Linked DNA regions of Homo sapiens. The protein of the gene in region 1 purifies or fractionates together with the protein of each later gene. This does not show direct contact. Each region holds a gene or a part of one and is shown on either strand. Other genes may lie near its edges.

The links.
Region 2: the proteins of TRPM8 (region 1) and CHAMP1 fractionate together in Homo sapiens (co-fractionation; one large-scale study listed by BioGRID). This does not show direct contact.
Region 3: the proteins of TRPM8 (region 1) and PCNX3 purify together in Homo sapiens (affinity purification with mass spectrometry; 2 studies listed by BioGRID and IntAct, with this or other methods). This does not show direct contact.

What each region holds. Positions count from the first base shown.
Region 1 is NC_000002.12:233,944,849-233,948,500, forward strand, and holds part of TRPM8 (transient receptor potential cation channel subfamily M member 8), read left to right. Parts: intron 1-1,007; coding exon 1,008-1,182; intron 1,183-2,239; coding exon 2,240-2,307; intron 2,308-3,652.
Region 2 is NC_000013.11:114,317,391-114,321,042, reverse strand, and holds part of CHAMP1 (chromosome alignment-maintaining phosphoprotein 1), read right to left. Parts: intron 1-3,652. UniProt on the Homo sapiens protein: Required for proper alignment of chromosomes at metaphase and their accurate segregation during mitosis. Involved in the maintenance of spindle microtubules attachment to the kinetochore during sister chromatid biorientation.
Region 3 is NC_000011.10:65,625,732-65,629,383, forward strand, and holds part of PCNX3 (pecanex-like protein 3), read left to right. Parts: coding exon 1-13; intron 14-172; coding exon 173-323; intron 324-943; coding exon of another isoform or gene 944-969; exon of another isoform or gene 970-1,166; intron 1,167-1,172; coding exon 1,173-1,317; intron 1,318-1,673; coding exon 1,674-1,851; intron 1,852-2,863; coding exon 2,864-2,972; intron 2,973-3,087; coding exon 3,088-3,217; intron 3,218-3,625; coding exon 3,626-3,652.

The DNA.
Region 1 (3,652 bases):
ATTACATATATTAACTCATTTGATGTTCATAACAAAACTATGAGGTAAGTACTACTATTCCCCCCTCATTATAAACGAGAAAAGTGAGGCATACAGAAAGTAAGAAACTTTCTTAATGCACATATCTAGTTAGTGGCAGGTTCATGGTGCACAATCTTTTAACCACTATAGTATTCAGATTAATAAATTTAAAAAATAGTATCACCAGCAAAACTCTGAATTCTTTCTGAATGCTATTTTTTCCTTCTGTTCTCCTTGAATTTTGGTGGTGATATTATTGTTCAAACTTATTAAATTCTATGTTTGGAGTTAAGATTGAAACACCTTTTAATGCAACGCTGATACTTTAAAACCTAAATGCCTTTGAATGGAGCTTGAGAGTGAGGAACCTTTTTGGTAAGGATTCCTTTCTTTATGTTCCTGAAGCAGTTTTTTATTCTCTGGTATTTTGGGAACAAAGTATCCATTTAATTACTTCTTTTTGTGGTCCTGTTGCTATGCGCTTCTCAAGTGCAAAGACTGTTTCATTCATTTTCTAATCCCTAGATCCTGGCATGGGTCACGGCATATGATAGATTCCAGACAGCTATGTATGTGTGCATTTCAATGTCTGCTTCTACCTGTATCCAGACACACACAAATACACACACACACACATTTGCACATACATGGTTTCCTGAATGCTGAATTTGAATTTCGTTGAATTTATGCAAAAGAGCACAGGGCAATGAACCAAGAATGGGACTGGGAATCTGATCCTTACACTGTCACTGGCCATTTATGAGAAAATGAGCACATGGCACAACCATTTTGAACTTCCATTTCCTCATATTTAAAAGGAAGTCTGTACTATAAGATCGCTAAGACCCCTCTGGATTTAGGAATCTGGGAGGAGGCATAATGTGATTGAACCCAAAGTATTAGCTTTCATATGAATATAGAAAAATATCATCATGTATCTTGACTGATAATACAATCTCAAAGACAAGTTTCCCTGTACTTTTCAGGGCTATTTTTTAGCCCAGTACCTTATGGATGACTTCACAAGAGATCCACTGTATATCCTGGACAACAACCACACACATTTGCTGCTCGTGGACAATGGCTGTCATGGACATCCCACTGTCGAAGCAAAGCTCCGGAATCAGCTAGAGAAGTATATCTCTGAGCGCACTATTCAAGGTCAGTGGTTAGGAGGTAGGACACTAGAAGTGTACAATAACCACAGCAGCCACAGCATCAACAACAATCACTACCAACTATTGAGTGATGCGTGAGAAACACACCTGATCAGGTATTTTTATTGCCAAAGAACTGTTATTTCTCTTAATTTTTCCAACACATCAGGAATGCTTCTGCCAGGGTCAATGTGGTATGTACCCTTTAACATGCTAAAGGCAATGATAAATACGGCCATCTTCCATTGTGGTTTGTTAGTATCAAAAGCTGGCTGTCTTCTTCTGGTAGATACCATTTAAGAACAAATACGATCTACAATGACAAATATGAGTTTATGAAACAACGCAATTAGCTAGGATAGAAAAGATAAAAACCAACCTGCTAGTTTAACAATGGTATGGTTTACTTTTTTGAATCTTGGCTACTTCTGAGTAACAGAAAACAGTGGTCTCAAGAGAAGAATGCAACAGTTGAGTGAAAGCCATTATTTGCCGTGGTTGAGTGACATGTACTCTCTCTCTTCCTGTGGACAGGGTATTGAGATGTGTCCTGCTGTGGAACAAGATTACCTTGTGATTTAATGATAGACATAATGACAGGAACTTGTTGGAAATGTTGTCAATTATTTTCCTTTCACAATTGGACATACATGAAAGAAGAAACTATATATGCAATAAACTGTTGAAAGACCACTAGTTATGCAAAGTTCTCACTCAAGCAAGCATAGGATTATAGGAAAGCATCATTATTATAAGGATAAACTTAAACCTAGTTTAATTTATAGGTGCAATGGTAAATCATGCACAGGCTTTCAGTATTCAAATATGTATTTTAAATATCAATGACAAATTGCAACATGACCCATGTCATGCTATTACTAGTGTGGAGCAAAAAGACTCATCCGTCTTTAATGAGTGGATAATGTTCAAGTCCGTGAGATGTGAAGCTATCTCTCCACACCCTAGGCTCACAGGGCAGAAGCTCTTGGTCCAACTTTTCACAGAGGTAGGTGAGTATTTCTAATGAGCTCAAAATATGCTTTACTTTTTATATTTTACAGATTCCAACTATGGTGGCAAGATCCCCATTGTGTGTTTTGCCCAAGGAGGTGGAAAAGAGACTTTGAAAGTGAGTCCTGATTTAGTTTTCTAGAAGGTTGGCTAATAAGCCTATCCAACAAATTTGTATTTTCAAGGATTTGGGCTCATCTAATCTAACCTAATTGATTTTACTGCAGCAAGTAGGTAGTGTTTTCCCTCCACATACTGTTCCCCTAACAGACTCCGGTTATTCCTCAGTCAAGAAGATTTGGGAGGAGAATTTCAGTGACATGAATAACCTGTGTACTTAGTGTTGGCCTTGACAGTCAACCTGCCAAAGAGAAGAGTTGACATTAATTCGGGAGACTTAAAGATTGTAACCGGCATATATATTAGAAAGCTATGGCCAACCTATCTGCATTGAGATGAGCTGTGATCATACACACACAGATTGCCCCCAAACCAGATGTTTCCAGACCACCTAAGGCCCATTTATATGCCACCTGGGGATGCAGGTATGTTGCATGATGGAATTCCAAACCCTAAGTGATTCTGAGATCATGGAAACTTCTTGAATGGTTCTGCACCTGCAACACTGAGCAACTGAGCAAGAATTTGACTTCCCAGCCAATCTGTATGGACTCATTACTGAGTTCATCTTGCCTGCAGTCAGGCTTCTGTTTGACGTTTTTTTGTTTTTGTTTGATAATCCACTTGAATCAAAACCTTTTATTTATTTATTTGTTTTTAACTTTTAGGGTCAGGGGTATATGTGTAGGTTTTATGTATAGGTAAATTGTATGTCACAGGGGTTTTGCATACAGATTATTTTATCACCCAGGTAATAAGCATAGTACCCCATAGGTAGTTTAAAAAAAGTTAGTGTGACTACATTTTAGTAAGTATTGTAAACAATTTTCAAGAGCTCATTTTTCTAGGAATAGCACATTACAAGAAAGTCATTTTTAACTCATCTTTTTCATGAATTTCCGCAATGATTTGCATATTCCTCCTTTTACCCATCCTATTTTACCTCTAAGACAGGGAATAGATTAAAGATACCTGGAGCTAAAAGTAAGTGCTGGCAAAGTTATCTGGAATCATCATCTAGTACTTCTCATTATTCTTTTATGTAACAATGGCTGTTTTCTTCATCCATTCAACAGATATTTATTGAGTACCCGCTATGAAATTTACAATTGAGATCATGGTTAAATAAAAATATTCAGGGAAACATTAAAATAGAGATTTTTTTTCAGTGTGTGATTGTCAGTGTATTAAAACCTTTTTATGCCTAGTGTTCCATTATTGGAACACTAAGCATGTGGGAGTTATTTATATCCTACTGCTCAAGGTCATCACCAAGGTGATCGCCAAAAATTCAAAAAATTGCAAGCTCCAGCATAAATGGCTCAAATCTGCAAAAGCAGCCA
Region 2 (3,652 bases), on another chromosome or scaffold:
AATGGAATTCTGTGTATTTCTCTCACCATCCTGCCCTAACAGTGAGAGGAGTCCAGTCCACTAAGCCTGCTTACTTTTTTTTTTTTTGAGACAGAGTCTTGCTCTGTCGCCCAGGCTGGAGTGCAGTGGCGCGATCTCGGCTCACTGCAAGCTCCGCCTCCAGGGTTCATGCCATTCTCCTGCCTCAGCCTCCTGAGTAGCTGGGACTACAGGCGCCCGCCACCACGCCCGGCTAGTTTTTTGTATTTTTAGTAGAGACGGGGTTTCACCGTGTTAGCCAGGATGGTCTCGATCTCCTGACCTCGTGATCCGCCCGCCTCGGCCTCCCAAAGTGCTGGGATTACAGGTGTGAGCCACCGCGCCCAGCCCGAACACTTACTTTTATGAAATGACACCAAAGACTACAGTAGATACCACTCCTGACACCATCCTTGTCTACTTTCTCTTTAATGATCCACTATGGAATTATGCCCGTGTGTGTAATCAAATCCTTCTCAAACCCACCACCTAACTTCACTTCTCTGATAAGCACTCAGAAGACTGCTGGTGTGACTACTGACTATAACAATGGCTGACTTTTGTCAATTATTGATATTACACAGCAGAGTGCCAAATTAACAGGCAGTGGAGGAAGGGACACCACAACAAAGAGGACCAAGAGGCACAAAAAGAAAGGACTCTGGGAGGAGCAGGATGGCAGTGTCCTGACCCCAAGGAAGAACACATGGACCTGCTTCAGTGATTGCTCTGCCCTCTTCTCTTCCTGCATGCATTTCAAAGATAAAGCATCATGGTGTGGGTGAGTCTGCTGACAGGAACAGAATGTGATAAACTGGCCATGCACAAGCTACACAACAGCTCATATTATGCTTCTGATTAGCTCCAGCACATTCATCTACCCCTTCTCTATCCCCTACCCCTATCACTGCTTTAATTCTGACATCTGAACTCCCTGCCACTAGTCTCCTTTTCTTCCAACCCATTCATCGTACAGCTACCAAACCTGTCTTCCAAACAGAAGCCTAATGTGATCTGCCTGTTCACATGTCCTCCAAGTCAACTAAGACACCTACAGTATACAATTTGAATATGGCATATAAAGCTCTTCACAGTCTGGCCCATGACCAGACTGCATTCTCAAAATACTGGCCCACATGTAACTCCCTGACTATTCCAGCGTCTGTGCATTTGTATAAACTATTTCCTCTCCTTTACACTCCCTGTCTTGCCACCCGGCCATCAGGCAAACTCCTTCATCCTTCAGGCAGGACAGCTTTTTAAGTCAGCTGTCTTTCTGTAAACACAGGGACCTGGTTCCAGGACTTCCCCCATATGCCAAAATCCACACATACTCAGGTCCTACAGTCAGCCTTGTGGAATTCCCATATATGAAACATCTGCCCTCCATATAAATGTTTCACATTCTGTAAACGCTCTTTTTTATTGGCATTTGGTTGAAGTTCTAACCTCTGTTATTCATGAGTCAACTGTACTGGTCAATTCCCCACTTCTTCCCAATCTTCCTAGAAGCCCCAGCTGTACATGTCACCCTCTGGCACTACAGCCTGATACCAAAAACAGGATGCCAGCTCCTGGAGAGGAGGGACTATTATCCCTTTATTCACCTCTGGAACCGTTGCACATCCCTGACACACAGTATGTGCTCTGTTCAATCCTAACATTCTCTCAATCTTAGACTCACAGGATTTTAAAACTAGAGGAAACCTAAGTTACCATCTAGTCTCAAAGTCATAGGATTTGAGGGTAGGAAAAGACCTCAGGGATCATCTACTTTAAAACTTCAATTTATAGTTAAGGAAACTCAAGCTTGACATTAAACAGCTTGCCCAAATCAGACAAATGATCAGTATCTGATGAGAGAATAAAGTTCTGCTATCTGTCCAGGTTCTTTGTAGATATACACAAACTAATACAGTGGAATTTAGTAAGATCTTTTAAAGCCTGTACAATAGTCCAAAATAAACAAGATGAAACAAACACTTAGAATCCACATATCAAGTGCATAAATACAGGACTATAGAGAACTATATCCCATATTCTGCACTGGGCAGAGTACACTATTCCAGTGGATCACTGTCCCCAGCTCTGGGCAGGAAGGACACTTTAAGAGAGTCTCTAACAAACTAGGGAACATTAAAAAAAAAAAAAAAAAAAAAAAAAAAAAGGCAACCAGGATGGCAGATGGCCCTTTAAAAAAAAAAAAGTCATTTACAAATAAAGACATTTAACTTCAAAAGGGGAAGAATTATAGATAATATATGAGCTATCCTAGAAGTGACAATCAGAAGCTAGCAGGAAAAGAATTGTGGCTTAACACAGTTTACAATCTACTCTATCATGAACTAGAACGAGTTCCTTTGTCAGGTAGGAGTACTCCATAATTAGAATCTGATGATCAGGCCGGGTGTGGTGGCTCAGGCCTGTAATCCCAGCACTCTGGAAGGCTGAGGCAGGTGGATCCCTTGAGCTCAGGGGTTCAAGAACACCCTGGGCAACACGGCGAAACCCCGTCTCTACAAAACATACAAAAATTAGCCGGGTGCAGCAGAATGCACCTATAGTCCCAGCTACTCGGGAGCCTGAGGCAAGAGAAATCGCCTGAGCCTGAGAGGCAGGAGTTGCAGTGAACCAAGACTGCACCATTACACTCCAGCCTAGATGACAGAGTGAGACCCTGTCTCAAAAAAGAAAACCAAAAAAAAAAAAAAATGATGATCAGCATAGGACTAGAAGGATCTTCAGAGGTCTTGAGTTCAACCTCTTCATTTTATAACTGAAAAGACTGATGCTGAGGGAAAGAAGTGACCTGTCAAAGATCACAACACTGAGGTCAGAGGGAACAGTTTTTTTATTCTGGTTTTCTCAATTCTGGTCTCTGCTGTAACAAAATGCTGTCTTTCCCACAGTAGCAGAACGATCCACGAAGATGTTACAGAATTTAGTCCCAGAATTCAACTTTTAGGCAAAGCCTAGAGAGCTGGGCGTCCTTCCAGCTTTTAGGTTCTAGCAAAATTTCTTCCTAAATTTAAGAACTCCTAACCCTAACTAAAAATTAACTCAGAATTGTCCAGATTAACAAAAATTTCTTTTTGTCTTTGAGACAGATTACATCTCGTCTCTAAAAAACCTAAATTCTAATCATTGGTGCTCTGCCAGTCTATCACCCAGTATCCTTCAATGCAATGTTATGCCAGATGGTGTATCATACCTATTTCCCATCTCCCATTCAATTTCTTCTTTGAAGTCGAACACCACTGATCATCTTTTAAAACACATCTGATGCATAGTTTTTTAAATTAAAATTCAATAAGTAGAACATGTTCAAAGCTAAATGGGTTCTATTAGTCTATACACACTAGCATTGTTCTTTATCTTAGCGGACTTTTTTTCTTTTTTAGAGACAGGGTCTCGCTCTGTTGCCCAAGGTTTTGGTGCAGTGACGCCATCACAACTCACTGCAGCCTCATACTCCTGGGCTCCAGAGATCCCCCCGCCTCAGCCTCCTAAGTAGCTGGGACCATAGGTACCTGCCACCACATCTGGCTAATTTTTTTTTTCTGTAGCGATGAGGTCTCACTATGTTGTCCAGGCTGGTCCTGAACTCCTGGCCTCCAGAGATCTTGTTGCCTTG
Region 3 (3,652 bases), on another chromosome or scaffold:
TATTGCCCTGAAGGTTTGTGTGGCATGGGCCGCTGCTGCCTCTCGCTGTCTTGGCGGGAGCCTGCTCAATCTGAGTGCCGTGGGCAGCCCCTCCCCGGCCTGTGCCAGGTGGCCCTCTGTGGTCCCTTGGCCTGCTCCCATCAGCTGAGTCTCTGGCCTCTCCCTCCTGCAGTCGGTGCTGGGTTTCGTGTTGTACGCACTGGCTGGGGCCGTGGGCTTCTTCACACATTACCTGCTGCCACAACTCCGCAAACAGCTGCCCTGGTTCTGCCTGTCACAGCCCGTGCTGAAGCCGCTGGAGTACAGCCAGTATGAAGTGCGCGGTGAGTGCCCACCCCTGATGGCCAGGCCTGGGCAGTGGCTCGGGCTGCAGCCTGGCTGGTGGGAGCTGTGGTCCTCTCGGCTCAGGAGTGCCAGCAGGGGGCACTCGCTGCCCACACTACCCTTTCTGCTCCCTCCCTGCCCTCTGTGTCCGTGTTGCCCGGCTGCGCTCTCCACCGACTCTTCTCCTCGTGCCCTGCTGTGCCCTTCCCTTGCCTGTGTTGCCCTGGTCCTGCCCTCCTTCCTGTCTGTGAGAAGACGGAAGAATTAGAACCCCAGGGCCCTGAAGGGATCTCTTGTCCAGAATTAAACACTGATCACCAGTGGACCAGAGCTGCCTGGAGCACATCTTCACTGGGCTGCATAATGGTTTTTAAAAAATCCTGGAGCCTCTATTTTAGCATCTCGATTTGAGATATGAAGATCCATGTTTCTTGAGTTTTTCTTAAACGACAGAAGATTTTGCTTCCCAGACTAGCATCCCTCTGTGGCTACAACCAGCCTGAACCGAGGGGTCTGCCCTTTAGAAGGGCCCAGCTCACGGGCTCACTGTGCACTCAGGCCCTAGCCAGCCTGCTGTACGTAGGTGTTTGCGATTTCATCATTGGCCTTGTTTTAACAGACAGCAGAGCAGAGCACCTGCCATAAAGCAAGCCTCGATGTGCTAAGTGCCATGTGGAGCCCTTGCCCTGCTGGGGCTCGCTGCTCCCATTTGAGCTGCCACAGATCAGCCCCTCCCCCCAGGGTCTCCGAGGAGTCAGGACCGCACAGCCTGCCCTCCTAGGGAAGGACTTCCTCAGGGAAGGCAGGCATGTGGAAGCCAGGTGCAGAGTCCTGGCCTCTCCACACAGGTGCCGCCCAGGTGATGTGGTTTGAGAAGCTGTATGCTGGCCTGCAGTGCGTAGAGAAGTACCTCATCTACCCCGCCGTGGTGCTCAACGCCCTCACGGTGGACGCCCACACAGTCGTCAGCCACCCGGACAAGTACTGCTTCTAGTGAGGACCACCCCACCCTCAACGATCCCATCATCCGCTTTCCCTTTTGATCCGTGGGGAAACTGAGGCCTAGAGAGGGAATGAATCATGTCTAAGGTTGTTTAGCAAGCTAAAGCAGGACCCCAGCTCCTGACACGCCATCCCAGGAAGTGGTTGCTTCTTCAAAGGCAAATGTGTTCCCACCACTCCCTTTGGAAGAGCAGAGACTAAGAGTCACGGGCCCAAAAGAGCAGGGACCAGCCCAGCAGAGCAGAGGCCAGGGGTTGCTCTCCGGCCAGAGTAGGCGAGGGATGGGACACCTATACCCACTGCCCCGGTCCCCTACCAAGCACCCGATGCCTGCCCCTTGCCCACAGCTGCCGGGCGCTGCTGATGACCGTGGCTGGGCTGAAGCTGCTGCGCTCAGCCTTCTGCTGCCCCCCACAGCAGTACCTGACGTTGGCCTTCACCGTCCTGCTCTTCCACTTTGACTACCCGCGCCTCTCCCAGGGCTTTCTGCTTGACTACTTCCTCATGTCCCTGCTTTGCAGCAAGGTGAGTTGGTGGCTGTGGCCCAGACCCCAGGCTGTCCAATGGGAGCAGAGCCAACTTCTGCCTGGGTGGGAAGAGAATTTCCTGAGGGCCTGTGGCCACCGCTCTGTATCAGCCCCGTGGGCCTTTGCAGCAGCCTCTCAAGGAAGGGGTTACTTCCACCCTCTACAGAGAGGAAGCAGGCTGAAGGAGGTTGAGGGACTTGCCTCAGGCTTCCAGAGAATTGGTGGTCAGCCAGGATTTGAACCCAGGCCTGTCTGACCCCACGACCACCTCCTCAGAAATGGTTAGGGTAATCAGGACCTGGCCTTATCCTCTGGACGCAGACCTCTGAGTTCCACGCTCTTTTGCCACCCTGGATCCAGAGCAGTCCGAGCTGAGTTTCAGAAGCCCCTAGTGCCTGGGTGTGTATAGGTGCTCTGCCGGCTGTGGCATTGCCACGGCTTGGGGGGCTCTTTGAACTAAGGAACCATGCTCCTACACTCTACTGGAGGCCAGCAGTGGTACCTGGAACCCCAGGCAGGCCTGAGCCTTTTTCTTCCTCACGTGGGCATTCTGTTCTTGTTTTCTGGCCTGGCCCAGGATGGCGGTCATCCACACTGCGTACCCTCTGAGGGCAGGGCCTGTGGCTGTTCTCAATTTTCAGTACTATAGTCTAGCTTCAGCCTCACCAGTGACCTAGTGGCGTGACCTGAGGAAGTCATTTATCTTCTCTGTCTTCACTGAACCTCAACTTTCCCATCTGTGAAAAGGGGCCAGCAATAGGAATAAGAAGCTCACAGGGTACTTGTGTGAACTAAATGGCCACCGCCCCCTTTGAGCTCAGGCAGGGGTTGCTAATGGCATCAGGCGCCTTGAGCCATGTCCAGAGCACAAGGGCTGGCAGTGACCTTGAGTTTGGCCCCCGTGGGCCAAGCCAGTGCGATGACCCAAGCCTCTGAATGGGGCCTGGCATCCGGGGGCTTCCATGAGTGACCCTGCATGTCTTTTTTCTTCTCCCTGTTGGCCCTGCCAGCTGTGGGACTTGCTGTACAAGCTGCGTTTCGTGCTGACCTACATCGCGCCCTGGCAGATCACCTGGGGCTCGGCTTTCCACGCTTTTGCCCAGCCGTTTGCCGTGCCACGTATCCAGCCTGTGTTTGGGTGGGGGTGTGCAGGGAGGGCTGTGGCCTGGGGCAGTGGGGGGTGGTGGGGGGCTGGGAGGTCCTGTTGCCCGCCGCCTCCTTGACTGTGGCTCAGACTCGGCCATGCTGTTCGTCCAGGCCCTGCTCTCGGGGCTCTTCTCCACGCCTCTCAACCCACTGCTAGGCAGTGCCGTCTTCATCATGTCCTACGCTCGGCCCCTCAAGTTCTGGGAGCGCGACTACAAGTGAGTCTCACAGGAGGCGGGAGCATGCCCAGCAGGGCAGGAAGGGAGAGGTTTGGAGCCCAGGCTGGAGGCCACCCACAGAGGGGCCCACAGCAGGTATGGGAGGGCTTGGTCACAGTGGGGACACATGAGGCGGCAGATCCAATGCAGGGAGAGCCTGCACCAGGCCAAGGCTTCAGGCTCACAGCTTGGGGATAGTGGGGTCTGGGGATGAGCTTAGCCTCCCAGCTTCTTGGCTGTGTGTCCTGTGTGAGTCCCTTCATGTACCTGAGCCTCAGTCTCCTCATCTGCCTGCATAACGGGGCTGTCCTGGATGGCGTTGACCTTGTGGCACAGGGAGAGCATGAGCAGGGTGCACCCTCTCTTCACCTTCTTGGCCAACCGCCTTGTTGCACTCTCTCTGAACAGCACTAAACGTGTGGATCATTCCAACAC